4 linked regions of the Homo sapiens genome follow. The protein of the gene in region 4 interacts with the protein of the main gene of each other region in a pairwise test. Each region holds a gene or a part of one and is shown on either strand. Other genes may lie near its edges.

Evidence for each region.
Region 1: the proteins of SMCO4 (region 4) and FAM174A interact in binary tests that used the Homo sapiens proteins (3 or more experiments, as listed by UniProt).
Region 2: the proteins of SMCO4 (region 4) and KCNK5 interact in binary tests that used the Homo sapiens proteins (3 or more experiments, as listed by UniProt).
Region 3: the proteins of SMCO4 (region 4) and SUSD3 interact in binary tests that used the Homo sapiens proteins (3 or more experiments, as listed by UniProt).

What each region holds. Positions count from the first base shown.
Region 1 is NC_000005.10:100,541,396-100,546,271, reverse strand, and holds part of FAM174A (membrane protein FAM174A precursor), read right to left. Parts: intron 1-4,876.
Region 2 is NC_000006.12:39,190,578-39,195,453, forward strand, and holds part of KCNK5 (potassium channel subfamily K member 5), read right to left. Parts: intron 4,184-4,876; coding exon 4,017-4,183; intron 3,761-4,016; coding exon 3,592-3,760; intron 1,179-3,591; coding exon 313-1,178; 3' UTR 1-312. UniProt on the Homo sapiens protein: K(+) channel that conducts voltage-dependent outward rectifying currents upon membrane depolarization. Voltage sensing is coupled to K(+) electrochemical gradient in an 'ion flux gating' mode where outward but not inward ion flow opens the gate.
Region 3 is NC_000009.12:93,075,223-93,080,098, reverse strand, and holds part of SUSD3 (sushi domain-containing protein 3), read right to left. Parts: intron 4,664-4,876; exon of another isoform or gene 4,617-4,663; coding exon of another isoform or gene 4,595-4,616; intron 4,316-4,594; coding exon 4,127-4,315; intron 2,254-4,126; coding exon 2,106-2,253; intron 629-2,105; coding exon 497-628; intron 1-496. UniProt on the Homo sapiens protein: May play a role in breast tumorigenesis by promoting estrogen-dependent cell proliferation, cell-cell interactions and migration.
Region 4 is NC_000011.10:93,480,829-93,485,414, forward strand, and holds part of SMCO4 (single-pass membrane and coiled-coil domain-containing protein 4), read right to left. Parts: intron 1-4,586.

The DNA of each region.
Region 1 (4,876 bases), on a different chromosome or scaffold from region 4:
GCATTCTCTGGTGTCTCTCACCAAGCTCTGACAACTGTGAAGGACATATGTTGGCATGGCAAGACCAAACATTAAAGCCAGCTAAATTGCTGTTACCACATGGAGGACAACTGTGTTGGAGGATAGCCCAAATCTGCAGCTGAATTTTCTTAAAGGAAAAATAGAATTTTATTGTATTAAGTCATTTAGATTGAAGTTGTTTGTTCAACTGTAGCTTGTACTATCCTGATTAAAATACGTAGCTTCTCATATCAGTTTCCTAATTTGAAAAATTATCTACTCACCTCAGAGTTGAGGCTGAAATAACACTTATCAAATAATTTTATAAGGTTTTTTGTATACATCTATATAAATTTAAGGTGTCTACAGTATACATAATGACAGGAAAAATAATAGTTCCTTTAAACAATTATAAGTGATAACACAAGGTTATAATTATGTCATGTGTTTTATTAACATGTAACATATATTAATAATGTGAATTTATGTTCTATAGATTTCAGTAATAAAAGAAAGTTAAAACTAAAACTATCATATTAACTAGAGGAATAAAGGCATGCATGGAAAATTACACATATACTCATATGTATGTAAATTAATTAGCATAGAAACATAGAGACAGTTTTATCTTTTGGATGTTTTGCTTTACTATTGAGATAACTGGTGAATACATAAAATTACAGTATAACTAAAGTCAAACCATAGTATATATTACCCCTTTTACATTACAAAAACATAATACAGTTTGGCTACACAGAAAGAATTGACATTACATGCCAACCAAAATCTCACAACAGTCAATATCTTCATGTTCTATGAATTTTCAACTCTATACCACTTTCTTCTTCCAGAAAAAAAAAGGATTATTAAAGAATATAGCAATAAAAATCTATCCAAAAACGCCAAGGAAAACCTGATTTCTTAAGAAAGTAACTTCAATTACTATAAGATTCTCAATTTATGATTTAAGTATTTCTCTAGATATGTTTTATATCATACTGAACAATGCAAATTACCAACATATCTTTCAACCCAATTTCAACATTTTACCATATTTCTCATATTTTAGAAAAGATCAAACCTAAGTAATTTTTTAAATGTAGTCTTCACCAAAGATAAAATTAGAATCAAATGCAATAATATAGAAGAGAAATACTACAATGGGCACTGGAGATCATGACAAAAGAACTCAGGAACTTTGAAGTGTAGGAGTAGAGGTGATACTCAAGATATTTAGCTATTTAACAACTGGCAGGGCATAAGGACCATCTAGTCAGAATAGACGCTTGCTGTAGCAATGGGTCCAGAAACACTGGTAGAGTGTATTGGTAGATACCACCTGAGCATTGCTACCAGTTGATAGTAATGTTCAAATGCTATTGATTTTGTTTTCAGAAAAACTTTGCAATAACTAACCAGAAGCATCTCAATCTAGTTTCTCCATTTTGTCCCACATTCAACCTCTATCAATTACAGAGGAATGCATTTTCTGGTTGTACTCTAATACCCTGAGGACTGCAGTCATGTTAGATATACACTGGTGAATAATCTGCACATTATCTTGGGTAAATACATGCAAATATACACCTGTTAAAAAAACTGACTTCTCTGCACAAGCATATATCATGAGGCTCCAGTATGGAATTGAAATGAGTTAAAATGACTACATTATTGCAGGATTGATGTTAACACCACTCTCACACAGCTACCTCACATTTTTAATCTTCATTTACATGTTTTGATTTCACATACATTATTTCTTTTTTATTCTTTTCCTTTATCTTTCTTTCTCCTCTTTTCCCCCTCTCTCTCCTCTCCTTCTCTCTCTGTCTCTCGATCTCTCTCTCTCTCTCTCTCTCTCTCCAGGATCTCATCTGTTTGAGGATGCAGGAGTACAAATGCAGGGGTACAAATGCAGGGGTATGACCTTGGCCTCAACTGTTTCCGGGATGCAGGGGTACAAATGCAGGGGTACGACCTTGACTTCCTGGACTCCAGTGATTCACTTCAGTTTCTTGAGTAGCTGGGGCCACAGGTCACCACAACTAGCTAATTTTTTCTTTTTTTCATTTTAGTAGGGATGAAGTCTCACTATATTGCCCAGGCTGGTCTCAACCCCTGGATTCAAGCAGTTTGCCTGCCTCAGAATCCCAAAATGCTGGGATTACAGGCATAAGCCACCATGCCCAGCCTGATACATTATTTCTTATTTCCTTTTGATATTAATTCAGAAAACGTGAAAATCTACTATTTTCTAAATAAGGTATAAAAAGCAAACAGTGTAGAAAAGAAGACAGAAACAGAACCACCTATTATAGTCCCCTGGAAATAATGTCATAACACAGGTATTCTCAAAATGGTCTGGAATCACAGAGATTTCCCAGTAGAGTACATGTTCCATTTCATCTTCAAAGACAACCAGGAGTTAAACAAGAGAATAAAGAAAGAATGCAAAGAATTCCATCCTTGAAAAATGTACTTGCATAAAAATATAGTTCACTAGAGACTGGAAGACAAGATAAAATAAAAAATGATGGCCGGTAGTCCCAGCCACTCGGGGAGGCTGAGGCAGGAGAATCGTCTGAATCCATGAGGTGGAGGTTGCAGTGAGCTAAGACTGTGCCACTCCCCTCCAGCCTGGGTGACAGAGGGAGACTCCATGTCAAAAACACCAAAAAATCTGATTAAGGAGCTAATTAAATACTAAAGAGTATGAACATTGATCCCATGAAATGCCATAGAATTGTGCTACCCAATAGAACTTTCTGCAGTGATGGACATATTCTGCATTGTTCTGTCCAATACAGTTGCCACTAACAACATGTGATTATTTAGCCCTCAAAATGTGGCTAGTTGGCGGGTGAAGTGGCTCACACCTGTAATCCCAGCACTTTAGGAGGCCAAGGCAGGCAGATCACTTGAGCTCAAGAGTTCGAGACCAGCTTAGGCAACATGGCAAAACCAAATTTCTATAAAAAATACAATAAATAGCTGGGTGTGGTGGCGTGCGCCTGTAGTCCCACCTACTTGGGAGGCTGAGGTGGGAGGATGGCTTGAGCCCGGGAGGCAGAGGTTGCAGTGAGCTGAGCCAGACCTTGTCTCTAAATAAATAAAAGAAATGCAGCTAGTATATCTAATGGACTGGAATTTTACATTTTATTTTTCATTAACTTTGTTTGAGACAAGGTCTTGCTCTGTCATGAAAGGTGGAGTGCAGTAGTGTGATCATCACACACTGCAGTCTTAATATCCTAGGTTTGAGTGATCCTCCCACTTCAGCCTCCCAAACAGCTGGAACTTACAGGCCTGCACTGCTATACCCAGTATGTGTATATACATATATATTACACACACACATATATATACACACACACATATACCCCCTACACATGTGTGTGAATATTATACACACACACACACACACATATATATATATAAATATAATAAGCAGGATCTCACTATATTGCCCAAGCTGGTCTCAAACTCCTGGACTCAAGAGATCCTCCCACCTTGGCCTCCCAAAGTGCTGGGATTACAAACGTAAGCCACTGTGCCCAGGTAACATAAGTTTTTAAATAGCCACCTGTACCTACTGGCTACCATATTGGACAGTGTAGCAATAAAGGATTATAAGCACACACATAGTATGATAGATTTACATCTCAGAGGGAACACCATCTGTTCAGTGTTGAAGGTAAATTGAAAGAGAGACAGGTGAAGTGGAGAAAAGTTAGAAACAATAGCACAATAATCTAGTGATGTGAACCTAAACTAATGTAAGGTCAATTGAGCTCATAAAGCAGCAATATAGTCAAGAAATATTTAGCAATTGAAATTGGATGACTGTATGTGAATGGTAAGCAAAAGAGAGACATGGGATGACTTAGGTTTCTAGTTTGAGAAACTGTGTAGATGATGGTGTTATTCTCCTTATAAAGAGAGTACAGCAAGATTTGTCCAGGGATAAAAATACTGTTTCAAGCTTAAACTTGAAAACAAGTCTGAATCATCTATCCCGTAAGAAGTTGGCTGGCTATACATGTCTGTAACTCAGAAAGTAATTAACAGCTTAGAGGTGGCCATTAAGGAAATGAATTTTGGATGGATCACCCAGGGAACATGGACAGTGAAAGCAGGGCCCAGAAAACACTGTCAGTTGGGAGGTGAAAGTCATTCTCTTCCACAAAAATTCAATGCATCTCGTTGTATTCTAGGAATCAGATTGGGCCTTTAGGGACCAAAGATGAGTAAGACAGAGGCCCTGCTCTCCAGACATTAGCTTGTAGAAGAGTCCTAATTAGGAAGAAGAGTTCATGGAATAAGAAATTCATGAAGAAGCTAGGCAAGAAATACTCAAGGAGGTAAGAAGAAAATCAGAAGAGATGTCTCAGAAGTCAAAGTAAGAACCAGTGCACTGAGTGCTACAGAAAAGGGGAAAATATCCATGAAACTGAGACAATGTGCTTATTAACCATCTTCTGCATGAGTAATTCTAGAGTGGTAGAATTAGAAGCCAGACTACAAAAAGCATAAGAGAGAATGAAAGGCATGGAAATGGGAACATTTCAATGGAAAATCTCTCTCCTGTCCTATGACAAGAGCTTTATTTAGATTCCCTCCTTAATGTCTTCTTAGGTATCTTCCTTTCCCATATCTTCAATATTTCCTTCTGTACTTGCTCTTTCCCCACTAATGGCATTTAAACAAGACTGGATAGTTCATTCTTAAATGGACCCCTTTCTACAGCTCTCATCCAATACTTCTCCCTGCCTGCACAGTTAAGAGTGAAATGAAATATATCCAAGCAGAAAAGGTCAACTGAAAATAGATTCAGTTACAGGGCAAGTTTGTAAAAGATTTATGCTGATTAGAGATA
Region 2 (4,876 bases), on a different chromosome or scaffold from region 4:
AGGCAAGGCCTCCTCAGGGTCAGTCCTGCCCACCTGTCCCGCCAGCCAGCATGTCTTTGCATTGTGAGATACACCAGCCAAGCTCAGGACAGATGCCCCCACAGCCAGGGTATGGTTCAGCTGGAGAACAGAGGCCCTGTCCCGGGCATACATCTAGCTGAGGATGATGGAAGGTTAGGAAGGCCCCTGGCCCCCCACTCCCAGTTCCGAGGCTGCCCCCCCACCAGGGGCCAGGCGTCCCGGTCATCTCGGGACACCCTAGGGTGAGGGGGGAAGAGGCCATCAAAGGTGGGGTGGGGAGCCGGCCCTGCCTCATGTGCCCTTGGGGCTGTTAGCCTTGTTGTACTCATTCATCAGCTGTTCGTAAGGCACAGAGAGCTCAGACTCAGTGCTGGTGAAGGTGGACTCGGAGGAGGAGGGGAACTCGCCCATGTTCAGGGGCGCCTTGGCTTCAGCCCCCTGCTGGGGGCTCTCCTCCCCTGCCAAGTTGTCCTCTAGCGAGGACTTGGAGGTCTCCTCGTCTGAGAGGCCAGCCTCCGTGTTCACGAAGGTGATGCTGGCGTCCTGGAAGATGAGTGGGTGGTAGTCCTGGGCGTCCCATGGCTCGCATTCCTCGCTGATGCGGTCCAGCTGGTTCATGAACACCTCGGGGGCAGGGGAGCTGTCTTCAGGGGCCCGTGCCACAGCCTCCTCATCTGGGGACCTTGATACGTGGCCTTTGCTCCTCAGTGTCTGTGACACCTCTTCCAAGGTGGGCACCCGGTTCTTGGAGTAGACTACCAGGGGCACCAGGGAAGGGGGCAGTGCTGGGAGCCCACCGCCTTGAGGCCCCAGCCCTGGGCCCGGGCCCGTCTCCCCACCCCCGCTTGTCTTCATGGCCTTCTTCCCGATCTGCTTGATGAGGTCGTTGTAGGTCTCTTCCTTCTTGGAAAGAAAGCTGAAGATGTTGACGTCCTTGGAGGCTGTGCTCCCCTTCACCTGCAGGGCCTTCCGGGAGTGTGGGGAGCTCTCAAAGGACTCCTTCCGTCGCCGCCGCCGCTTCTTAATGGCTTTGTGGACTTCCACAAACATGCTCACCTTCCAGTTGACAAAAAGGGACAGCCAGGCCAGCCCCAAGTAGATCCAGAGCTCCACGAAGTAGCGGTACAGGGCGTGGTAGTTGGCGCTGGGGTTCACACCTGAGCGGACAGGCAGTCCAGAGGTCAGGAAGAGTTAGCAGGGCCCGGGAAATGTGCAATGGCCAATGCTGTGTGATCTGAGCAGGGGTCAGGCCAGAGCACAGGACGGGGGTGCAGTGGGATAGAAAGGGGCCTGTTCTAGACCCTGGACTATCCCATCTTCCTCAAGGGCTTGGGCCTGCCATCATTCATGACCCCATCCCAGTCTCCAGCCTGTCTCTGAGTCTCGGTTTCCTCAACTAGAAACGTCAAGACAGGCCAGGCATGGTGGCTCACGTCTGCAATCCCAGCACTTTGGGAGGTCAAGGCAGGTGGATCACTTGAGGTCAGGAGTTCGAAACCAGTCTGACCAACATGGTAAAACCCCAGCTCCACTAACAATACAAAAATTAGCCAGGTATGGTGGCGGGCCAGCTACTCAGGAGGCTGAAGCAGGAGAACTGCTTGAACCCGGGAGGCAGAGGTTGCAGTGAGCCAAGATCACACCACTGCCACTCTAGCCTGGGCAGCAGACAGAGACTCCGTCTCAAAAAAAAAAAAAAAAAAAAAAAAAGTCAAGACAGTGACTCTTTGAAGGAAGCTAAAGGGGCTTTGGGGGACTGGCAATGTAACCGACACACAGGTCAAGAAACAGTTCATGAGTATTTGCCTTTCTGTTAATTCTTCTACCATCCCCAGCTGTTCTGCGTATATGATACAGTTCACTTAAAAACGGAATGGATGGATATTACACAAGGGAGCCCCCAGCACCCTCCAAGCTGGGGCTAGACTCACACTGGTGGATTACAAACAAGGCTGGTGGTTAGGTTGAGATGACCCAGGAAGCACCCACCGTGGCAAGAAACGCTGAACCATTTTTATTTTCATTGAAGGTCTGGTCTGCCTCCCTGACTTCCTCAGATCAGCTCTCCCTTGACCTGGAGGAGGGCTCTGTCTGCTCCACATCCCCCTCCTGCTGCAGGGAGCCTTCTTGGCTTACCCCCTACAGCTCTGAAGGTTCCCCCTACACTCCAGGATTATTTGAAATGTCGTTGACGACTACATGTACAGGCATGTTGACCTGTATTCCATTTGCCCCCTCGACTAGATACAAGAGCAACTTACAGAAGGGACCTGGAGGAAGGGGGCTACCTCTCTCATCAGACTAGAGGTTCCTCCAGGTGCTGTAGCCCGGTCAGTTCTCCTCCCACGACCGGGCTCAGATAGCAGGTGCCCTGAGTGGTCCTGTTAATCCTGCTCAAGGCTCTCAATCACAAGCAGAGTTTCATGATGACAGTAATGAGGGCACACACTGATATAGCCAGGCCCTACCCTTAACACTCATGAATAGTAATTATTATTTTTACTAATTTTACAGAAGAGAAAGCTGAGGCAGGGTTTGGTGTCTTGCTGGTGCTGAGAAAGTATGGCTAAGTGTACATCTGTATTTCCCTAATACCAGAGGCACCTCCTTAGCCTGCTCTGGGCCTCAAGGGCTGGACAATGGCAGGGTTGTGCCTTGTCCACATGTACTGCCCAGGACAGCAGGCCCGGACTTGGCAGGGTCAGGGGAGTGTTTGTGCCTCTCTTTCCTGTTCCTCCCCCAACTCAGCCAACTGCTCCCAGATGCCACATACATCAAGCACAAGGCTAGTGGCCTCCCACTGCCCTCTGGGCAAAAGGGAGGGGGTACAGAACAGAGGCCTCTGGAGCAGAAGTTGAGGTCACTGGGGTGGTGGGTCAACAGGGTCAAACAGGGTGTCAAGAAGATTAAGAACCAAGATGCTGTGCAGGCCACAAACACAAGTACATGTGTGGCTGGGGCCAGCTGGTAACAGGCCTTCAGACAAAGGGGCCAAAGAACCTCATCACTTCCCTGGATTAAGCAGGGGAGGAGTAGGAGGGAGTGTCAGGGCTGGGGGCAGGGCAGCTGGGGAGAAGGCCTCCCTTGTCTTTAAGCTGCTACAGCAGGAACAAAGCCCCAGGCCTCTGAGCCATGCCTTCAGGACACCTCCCTCCACTCTTGTGAAAGATGAAAGGCTGCTGAGGGCGTGGAGTGGGTGCTGGTGGGCTCAGGGGCTCCCTGGGTAGCAGGTACCAACCGTGCAGGCAGAAGGCCCTACTTGCAAGTCCCCCATGAAGCCAAGCTCAGGAGTCATGGGAGAACTGAGGGAGAGGAGATCAGAGACTGAGCAGAGAGGAAAGGAGGAGGAAAAAGGCCATGTCTGAGAAAGGGAACCAGAGAGAAAAGAGTTTTTTGTCATTACTCTGGGTCTTAGTTTCCTCTTGCAAATGGCAGAGTGGGTTGAGAATCCCACTGGGTAAGAGAAGTGCCCAGAACATGGAACCCTACCTAGGGCACCCCCAACATAGGTCTGTTGCACTGAAACCAAAGAAGCAGAAAAAGAGGTGGGAGGCAGAGGCAGGGACTCACCGGCCACAAAGTCACCGAAGCCGATGGTGGAGATGGTGATGAAGGAGTAGTAGAGGCCCTCGATGTAGTTCCACCCCTCAGTCACCATGAATACGAAGGGTGGGATCACCAGGTGGACTAGGACGCCCCACACGATGAAGATGACTGTGCACGTGATCTGCGCCTTCCGCTGATGGGGAGCAGGAGGCCAAGTCAGAGAATAGTGGAGACTTGGAAACCCAGCAAAGGCACCCAGAGGGCCAGGGAGGCAGCTAGAGGAGAAGCTAGCTGGGTACCCAGCCTGACCCGGGAGGGCAAGGAGCTCTGAAACTATCCTCTTGCCATCTGTCCTTACACCCTTGGTCCAATTCCTAGAGGCCTCCTGTCCTCCCCTCACCTGTCATGGTTCCCCCATCTCTGCCCAACACCCAGGGTAGGGGACATACCAGACTCACACCTCTCTTGGTAAGGAACTGCCCTAGTCTCTTGGCACGTCCCCCGAAGAACTTGCCCAGGGCACTGATCCACGTCAGGCAGAGCGGCACCCCGAAGAGACCATAGAAAACACAGAAGAGGCGACCGGCGGGGGTCTTGGGAGCCACATTGCCATATCCTGAGGAAGGAGAGAGTGAGGCCAAGAACAGGAGGGGTGGTCAAACCAGTGGGCCTTGCTTCCAACACACACACAGCCCGTTCTCTAAGATAAATTGATATTGATCTATTGTCAGTACTTAAGTAATGATATTTCCCTTGATCATACTCTGATCATGATCATTGATAAAGCAATTATGATGACATGAGCTGTATCTCCTCCATCATACAAGGAGCTCCCTGAAGGCAGGGACTAAGCCTGGTCAACAGGTCTTCCACTAGTCTATATGGTACCACTGTGCAAGTTATAAGACATGCTCTCTGTGTAGATTCCCCAGAAGCACTGTGGTAGATGGTCTCCAAAGATAGCCATCCTCCATTCCCTCCCTTCTTATGCAACTGCTCACATCAAGGTGTCATCTAATCCTCTTCCCTTGGAATCTGGGCTTTAGTGGCTTGACAACAGAAGCAGTCTAGGCAGCGGAAGAGACGCTGGACAGGTGAGGTCTAAGAAGCCTGCTGCTTTTCGCCTTGGTTCCCAAACACATGCGGAGGCCTTGTGTTTTCATCCCCAGCTGAGCTCCCAGCCAACAGCCAGCATCAACTGTCAAATCTGTGATGGGAGGAGCCATCTGGGCCATCAGATGAGTTTGGCTTTCAGAAGACTCCAGCCCAGCCATTGTTCGACTGCCACTGCATTGGGAGCCCAAGCAAG
Region 3 (4,876 bases), on a different chromosome or scaffold from region 4:
ACCTCAGCCTCCCAAACTGCTGGGATTACAGGTGTGAGCCACCAAGCCTGGCCAATCAGTATTAAATTTCTGGACTCAGAAAAAGAATGTCCTTATATTGGTTCAGGGCAAAAAAATGTATGTGTGTATTAAGAGAGAGAGAAAGGAGAGGGACAGAGCACGGGAGGGAGAGCAAGTGACTGCAGCTCAGTGCAGAGCCCTGCTGGGTGTAGGTGGAGGGAACACAGGTGTGTAGAAGCTTCAGCTTCCCTGGAGGGTGGACCCTCCAGATGAAAACACTGCTGGGGGCAGTTCTGAGTCCTAGAATGTCAGAGTCAGGACAGAGTGCTACAAGGACCACCAGCCTCTTGTTTTAGAGATGGGAGTTAAGGTTCTGGGTGGGCTAGGCGTGTGGGAGCAGCAGGCTCTCAGCGTGTGGGAGCAGCAGGTGGCCCGGGGCCTGACCAAGCTGGACCCCTTGTCCCCCAGCATGTCCCCTACCCAGACCCGGGCTCACGTGGTGAAGCTGTGGTTGTCGTGCGCCTGGCTGGGCCCGCTCACGGGTTTGTTGAAGTGCTTGAGGCCAAGGTATGCGGCCTGCACCGTCTCCAAGTCCTCATCTTTCAGCTGGGACCACAGCTGGGCTGACCTGGAGGAGAGTTTGGGAGGAAGGACTCTGAGCATGCAGGTGTATCCCTGACGGTGGTGGAAACAGGCTCCATGTAGGCCCAGGGCACCGTCTGCAGGACCAGTGCAGGCTGGCAAACCTCTCAAAGAGCTGGGCAGTGGATGTTTTTGGTGTGGTGAGACACATGATTTCTCCCACAGCTAAACTCTGCAATTGCAGCCCAAAAGTAGCCACACACCAGTAGACAATGAACATGGCTGTGTTCCAATAAAACTTTACTTACAAATACAGGTGGTGGAAAGTTCTAGGGCTGGACAGTGCTAATGGCTGCACTACATCGTGAACATACTTAATGCTACTGAACTGTAGACGTTAAAAAGGTTAAGTTTTGGCCAGGCGCAGTGGCTCATGCCTGTAATCCCAGCACTTTGGGAGGCCGTGGCAGGTGGATCATGAGGTCAGGAGCTCGAGACCATCCTGGCTAACACGGTGAAACCCCGTCTGTACTAAAAATACAAAAAAAAATTAGCTGAGCATGGTGGCGGGCGCTTGTAGTCCCAGCTACTCGGGAGGCTGAGGCAGGAGAATGGCGTGATCCCAGGAGGTGGAGCTTGCAGTGAGCTGAGATGGAGCCACTGCACTCCAGCCTGGGCGACAGAGTGAGACTCCGTCTCAAAAAAAAAAAGGTTAAGTTTTATGTATTGATATTTTACCACAATAAAAAATAAAAACAAAAAATAATAATAAATTACCATGGGGAAAAAACCTGACAGACAGCCGGACTTCGCTGGTGGGCTGTGGTTAACCAGCCCTCCATCTGCAGTGACAGTGACTCCCTCTCAAGGTTTAGGGGGCGTGTGTGGCAGCCCTGCAGGCCGTTAACACAGCAGAGTACATACTGCATATGTGTGCAGGTTTAAGAATAAAACGGGCCGGGCGCGGTGGCTCACGCCTGTAATCCCAGCACTTTGGGAGGCAGATCACTGGGCGGATCACCAGAGGTCAGGAGTTTGAGACCAGCCTGGCCAATATGGTGAAACCCCATCTCCACTAAAAATACAAAAAATTAGCCGAGTGTGGTGGTACATACCTATAATCCCAGCTTCTAGGAAGGCTGAGGCAGGAGAATTGCTTTAACCCAGGAGGCGGAGGTTGCAGTGAGCTGAGATCACGCTACTGTACTCTGTCGCCTGGGTGACAGAGCAAGACTCCGTCTCAAAAAAAATAAATAAATAAAATAATCCCCCGTGAACCCATAGCCTGGCCTAAGAGCAGGGCCTTGGGGGCCCACATGTCCCCCAGCTGTGATGCTGCCCCTGGCTGCTGCGTGGGCCGGGAGCAGCACTTGGGGGGGAGACGCAGGCCCAGAGCAGCAGTGGTAGGAACGGGTGCCCTGAGGGCAGTGCCGGGGTTCCCTTGAAACACTCTGTCCTTTCCTCCTCCCATGGTGCCAAGAGGCGCCTCCCGGGAGGACCCTGAGATCATGAGGCCACCGTACCTGTTGGAGCGCCGCCGCTTGCTCTTCTTCACGCACTTGAGGAGGCAGCAGGTGAGGAAGGCCATGGACATGAGCAGGATGATGGCACAGCTCACAATGGAGGCGATCACGGCCACCTTGAAGCCAAAGGTCTCGTGTGGTGGCACCACTGTGTGGGAGACAACCACCAGCTCCTGGGCGAGGTTTGCCCAGATTTGCTTGGCCCAGGGGTTGGGGGTCTCAGGGGTGGTACGGGTAGGGCCTGGGTGTAGACAGGGCCTGGGCAGCCCTCAGTGAGCCCTGTTTGCATGGTAAGGGGGCAGTGAGGTGCTGGGGGCTGAGGCAAAGATCTGTGCAAACTATATTTGGAGGTGGGACTATCAGAGAAGACTCTCCCCAAGAAGCAGGTTATTTGAGCAGGGTGTGTAGGAGTATGCAGAGTGGCTATTTAAAGGGGGTATTTAAGCAGGGTTTTCCAGGGTGTGTAGGAGTGTGCAGAGTGGCTAACTGAAGAGGGTATTTGAGCAGGGTTTTGTAGGGTATGTAGAAGTCTGCAGAGTGGTCAATTACAGAAGTTCTGGCAGGGAGTTCAGAGTGATGGCCTCCTTGGCTCCTACCCACTGAAGTCCTGCCTGAGGAATGAAGGAAGGGTGGGCCACAGAGAGGAGGTGACAATAGACAGTACTGAGGAGGCCTTGCCCAGCCCATGGTCTGGGTTTTCACAATGCCCCAAGGTGGCAACATTCTTCAGGGGGCCTACATGCCTTCTCAGGTCACTTTCCAGGAAGGTCCAAAATACTATGTATCTGCTGTGTGACCTCAGCTATGCTCCAAAAACTAGTTCCATCAGATTCTACTGGATGTTCTGGCTAAAAAAGGCCTCGGAATCCTAATTTGAGCAACACCGTTTACTCCCCCACGTAGAGAACATGGCCCTGTCCCCTGCCCCATTTCCCATGCTCCCTAGTGGATCCTGGCCACCCAAAATGGAGACTACATTTCCCAGTGGTCACAGGACCATGTTCTGGCCAGTGGAAGATAAGAAGTGATGTGGGGCAACTTCTAAGAACCTTCCCTGAGACACTGGGGCCTGCTCTTTGGCCCCAGGGCCCCTCACCCCATAACAGCTGCCTGGAACATAGCTGCTGCCATCTTGAATCATGAGGCTGAGGCCATGCCCAGCAGAGCCATGCCAGGGAAGGGGCCTGGCTCCCACTGCCATGGAGCCTATACAGATCTGCCTGCCCACCCTGAAGGTTGAGCTCCATCATAGTTAATCCTAGTATTTTGGGTTTTCTGCCTTTCAGAATCTAATCCTAACACTCGCATCCTCAGAGAATCACCTAGCACGTGAACATTTTAAAGGCTCTGAGAAGTTCTGCAGCATAAAAACCCAGAATCTGCCAAACTATTTTGACTCTGAGCCCTTTTTATGCACAAAACACATGAACATAACACACATAGCTTCATTTTGGAAATGTCATGCTGGGCACTGAAAAGGGACTATCTTGTGGACCTTTCAACACCTGTACAAGAAATACAACCAGAAAACCATTGCCTCCCACAGACTGGGAGCTCCAGGGCCAGGCACGTTATGACCTTCCGTGTTGCCAGTACTTAAGATTCCTGATACGTGAAATATCCTATTAAAGTTGGCCATGTGCACCTGTACATGAATGAATGAATGAATGAATGAATGAATGAACAAACATAGTTTCCTGCTTAACAGATGAAAACGTGCTGGCTCAGAGAGCATGCACAGCCTCTTGGCGGTGAGGGGCTGAGTCGGTAGCAGAGCCAGGATTGGAGGCCCGCTACTAGGTTTTCGGTCCGTGCTGCCAACATGGCACTGGGAGGGCTGAGGGCCTACAGCCGGCTGCTGACATGTAAGCAAGCTGTCAGTGTTGGGAATGGGACCCTACACACTGGCCTAGCTGCTTGTGAGTAGACACCCACGCCATCCCCACCCACACCATCCCCATGACAGGATTTGGGGCCATCCCCCACCCCCAGAGCCACCGAGCTGAGAGAGGGGTCCTTACGTTTGCACACTGGGGACCCTGAAGACCACTCAGCGATGCTCCCCTTCCAGGTGCAGGTGAGGAGCCCAGACCCCACCATCTGGTGGTTGGAGGGGCAGCGGAACATGAGCACGGTCCCCACGGAAGCACCATTGCCACGAAGGACTTGGAAGGTTGCTTGCGGGGGTAGCCGCAGCTTAGCGCACGTGCCTGGGGAGACAGGCAGGTATGAGGCATGGCGGGGGGGGGGGGGTGGGCACGCAGGGCAGGGCTGGGCAGGACCCTGGAGTGAGGAGCTGGCACAGCATTGGGGAGCACAGGGGTGGGGTGCAGCTCCAAAGGCCATTGGATGCTCTAGAGGTCACATGGGGTCATCCAGACCGGGGGACAACGCAGAGCTGGATCCCTCCATGAAGTACACTCTAGATGTTGAGGATTGGAGCATTAAAAAAAGAAATAAGTGTTAGAAGACAATAAAAGCAAACATACCTTCCCTGAGACACTGAGGCATGGCCTTTGATTATGACCTAAACACGGCTCCAAAGGCAGAAATCAGAACAAAAAAAAAAAAAAAAAAAAAAAGAGGGACAGAGAGAGATCAGCAGATTTGACTGCATACAAAGCAGAAAGCAAAAGCTTCTGAGGCTCCCTAATAATGGAAAACAACCAACTCAGGTGAAAAATTCGGGAAAGGATATTTGGAAAGCATAGGTCAAAGGTTGGTTCGGTAGTCTTAATCTATGAAGAGGTCTTACACATCAATGAAAACTG
Region 4 (4,586 bases):
ATCTCTTACCATTCCTCTCACTCCATTTAGACCCCAAAACCTTTTTTGTATCATTCAAAATCAGGCAGAGTTTCCTAAGGTATGAGATGACAAATATTATTGTGCTAGGATGGCATAATGCCAATCAAAAGCAAACATTAAGGTTCAGCAAATATTAAGGGAAGCGCCATTTGGGCAAATGTATAATTTCCTTCATGAAATAAGGAACAGAGAGAAAAAAAAAAACACCTACTATTACTTTCTTAAGGCCTGAAAGGTATAGGAACCCCTGGCTTTACCAATTCTCCTTTTCAAGTCTTCCAAAGGACTTCCAGGCAGACTTGCCTTCAAATCCAGGACCAATCACTTACAGGCTAAATGGCTTTGAGCAAGTCACTTAACTCCACTAGGCCTCCATGCCATCATCTGAACAATGAGAACAGCTTGTCTTAAAGGATGACTGTGAGAATCTGGAAAACAAATGCATCTGTACCCAGAGCTCTGCCCGCCCGCAGGGACGCGGTACAGGTGGGCTGAGACATCTCCACCCATACCCGTGGGCGGCCCAGGGACGGGTGCACTGAGCTCCTCTAAGCCTGACTGCAGCCTTGAGTGATGCCCACCTTCGCGGGACCGTGGTGAGGATGGAGTAGGAAGCTGTATAACTCAGGGCTTGGCACAGAGCGGGCGGCGAATTCGTGCTAGCTGACATACCAACACCTGGAACACACCCCAACGGCCCTGTGAGTCAGACAGACAGGCTTTATTATCCCCATCACGGAAGGGAGGAAACCAAGGAGCAAAGGGGAAAAATGTCTTGCCAACAGTCACCCAGTTTGTAAATACCCCATGGCTTCTAACAGAGCAATGGACAGCATTCCTGTTCAAAGCTGCAAATGGCAGCCTATTCTCTCCGACACGGCCTCAAAAAAATTGTTTAAAAAGAAACAAGCCATTAGCAGCACTCTGATTCGTGGCCATTTCCTTGTGGAGCTAATGGCCTGTCGGAGCCCGCTGCTGTCTCTCCCAAATTCCTCACAGGACTGGCAGGTGGCACCCCAGGCCTGGGGCTAGCCATGCCCTGGCTGGCTGGCTAGCAGTGCTGGGCCTGACTTCCCTCCTGCACTTCATGCTGCTGTCTGCATCCACCCACACAAGTGTAGTTGACATTCAAAGGCCCCAGCCTCCACAATGACCAGTTCTCAACATTTGTAAGATGCATTCAGAAGTTCCTGGAGGCATGGAAAAAAGCCTCAAGCTGCTGGGGCCAGGGCCGGTCTGGTCAGGATTTAAAGGGCAAACATGCCCGTCTGAATCCTGGGTACTTCATCAGGCTTCAGGAGGAGCAGCGTCTCTGCTCTCACTCACCTGTGAGCTGGGGCAGCAAGGGAAAGCATCTCTGAGATAACGACTGGGGAGGGGACCCTATGGTGAAAAGGGACCAACCAGGAAAAAAGCTGGGAAGAGCACCAGGCAGAGGGCAGAGTGGCCTGAGCCAGGGAGGGCATGGGCACTGGGGAAGGGCGGACTCAAGAAGCGCATTGAGTGCTCTGCATGTGAGGATGCTTCTTAGACATCGTCATGGAAATAATATCAAGGAGGCAATTGGATAAATGAGTCAGGAGCTGGGTCTGGGCTGAAGATCTGTATTTGGAAGTCATCAACTATTGGATTAAGAGAGATCATGTCCAAGGCAGGCAGAGAAAGGGCCCAGGACTGAGTCCTTTCACCCTGACAGCTACAGGGCAGGAAGGGGAAGAGCAAGCATGGGGTACTCAGAGAAAAGGAGTGAGGCAAAAGAGAACGTGCTGTCGTGGGGACCAAGACAGTCAAGAAGGTCAACTGTGAGAAGACAGAGGCATTTGTGCCAGAACATAAGCGAACGCACTGCTTCCTTCCTCGGGAATATTTGGCCAGGGAAAAACTGTCAGTGGCACGTGCTCAGTGCAGAGCTGGCTGACACTCTGCTGCAAGCCCCTCTGTCTTCCGGTAGCTTGTGATGACGGGTCTGCATGCCAGCACGCCAAACAGCACCAGGGCAGAAAACTGCTTTGAAGTTTTGTGGGAAGAATGTGTGTGGCCAAAATGGTTTTTCTTTCTTTTTCTTTAAATAATAAGCGAAACTAGAGAATGATGTTTGAGGGGTCTAATAGAATGGGAGAAAACCCTGACACTGAAAAAAGAAGAGGTCTCTGTAGGAGCAAGACAAGAAGCTGAATGGACAGACCTGCCTTCGAGAGGCAAAGGACCCTTTGAACTCAACAAGAGGAGGTAGGAAGATGGCACTGGGGGCGAGGGGTGGCTCCGTACTGTGAGGGTTGGGGGACTAAAGGCTTCTGTTTTTTTCAATGAAATAGGAGAAGGTTTCAGCTTAAAGTCTGGGAAGTTGGGAGGCAGACTCAGGGAAAGAGAAATCAAGAAGCAATCACTTTTGGAGGGTGGAAAGGCCACCACAGAGCACTGTCCATGCCCGCCTCCCTCTGGGCTAAGGATCGCCTCACCATGGCTCTGGGCCCAGGGGCTGCACCGGGCGGCCTCCTGGGCCAGGGCTGGCTCAAGCACATCTGCTAGGACCTCTGAAATGTGGGCTTGCCTAAAGGAGAAGCTGGGCCAACTGGCCTCTACTTCAAGAATCTAAGAGACATGAATGGACACTGAAGTTGGACAATCACACAGTTGTAGTCACCAGGGAAGCCAGGTGGGAGAGAGGCCTGGGGGTGGAGGGAGCACTCCAGAGAGGCCACAAGAGAAGCCTCCACACTCTCCTCCTTCTAGTCGAGTCCCCTGTGAGGCCAGCTCTACACAGGTTCCTGTCCTCAGGGTACTCCGACGTGTCTCTGTATGTGATGAACGCCTCTTTCAACTTTGGCTGGCTCCAAGGGGTCTCTGTCCCTTACACTGGAAAGAGCTCTGCCTAAAATGACTGCTCCAGTTTCACAAGGAAGAATCCAAGGCCCTGCCACTGACACAAAAGAAAGGACTGGCAGAGTCAAAGGTCAAACCCACATCTGTGACTCTGAAGCCTGGACAGTCCCCACCTTCCTGGGTGTACCCCACTTATCTTCCCGCCCTTCGCCCACTTTGTGCCCCCATCATGGTTCAGCAGCCCCTTGCAGAGAGAAATAAATGAAGCTCACACGCTCAGCCTGGCTTCTGCCCAGCAAGCAGCTCAGGCAGGATGGAAGCTGCAGCCTCCAGCTTCTCAAATGCCAGTGCCCCACGGCCTCTAGCTTCCCTAACCAGGGAAACGGAAACTTCACAAATGCCTGAGTTCTACTAATTCTAATGAAACTCCACCTGCTATGCTCCTACCCCCCACCAGCACACACCCACGGCAACCGGTCAGCATGGGGACACTCCAAATGGTCCCCAGTATGTGTGGGCAGGAGACCAGAGGCAGAGAGGAGGAAAGCAGGGACGCATTCTTCAGCACAGAATTGTTTGTGATTTTTTTTCTGTGATTAGAACTTTCCCGTCTTTTCCTACTTATGTATATAGATATGCATGTATGCACACATGCTAACTTCTTATATGCACTTTTCTCCGATTTGGAGATTATAATGTACACAGAGTGTTAGATCCTATTAAGGAATGGTAGGAACACAGGTTTGAAGTCAGGTTTGTGCCTTAGCTCTGCCCCATCTGGTTAAACGATCTTGGACAAGGTACTAAATCTCTCACGTCCCGACTCTCCTCCTCTGTAAAATGGGTAAGAAACCTGTTTTGCAGACATCGAAAAATTAGAAATAATGTATTATCTGAAGTATGCAGTGGATGAACAGGCCATACCAGAGGCTCAATAAATGGTACACAGTAACTTGCTGTCCAGCGAGGTCTGTGCTGTGGAGATGTACATGAATCTGGGAAACACCAGGGAATTCTTTTTTTTTTTTTTTGCACCATATAACCCATGCATGACAAAATCCCCCAGGTTTTCTCTTTTCCCTGAGGTACCAATTAGCTGTTGGGCAGGTTTGTTCAAAGGTTTGATGCGAGAAGCCTGGTTCAGGCTCTCAGGGGAAGGTCTAAGACAAGGAAGATCACTTTCAACTCTCATCACCCCAGACCTGCTAACCCTGTGCAGCCAATGCAGCAGCCACCGGCCATGTGTTGAACATCTGCAATATGGCTGTGGTCCAAAATCAGCTGTGCTGTGGTATAAAATACACACAAGATTTTGAAGGCTTAGTACCAAAAGAAAGAATGCCAAATAGCTCATTAAAAGTTATTTATGCTGATTATATGTTGAAATAATGTTTTGAATATACTGGGTTAAATAAAATCTATTATTAAAATCGATTTCACCTGTTTTCTTTTCTGTTTTAATGTGGCTACTAGAAAAGTTTTAAATTCCATGAGTAGCTGGCATTATACTTTTACCGGACAGCTTGCCCCATGCAGTCAGGGGCTCACACTGCCCTCCTGTAAGCTTTCCACATCATAGGCTCAGCCCACAAGGCTGAGAACTCCCTAAGCCTTCACAGCCCAGCCCCATTCATTCTTTCCAGCCTCACCACACCCAAATGACCCACTATTACCATCACACCTGAGCCTGCCTGTGGATTCTCACCTCCATGCCTTTGCTGATGGAACATCTATGCTGGAAT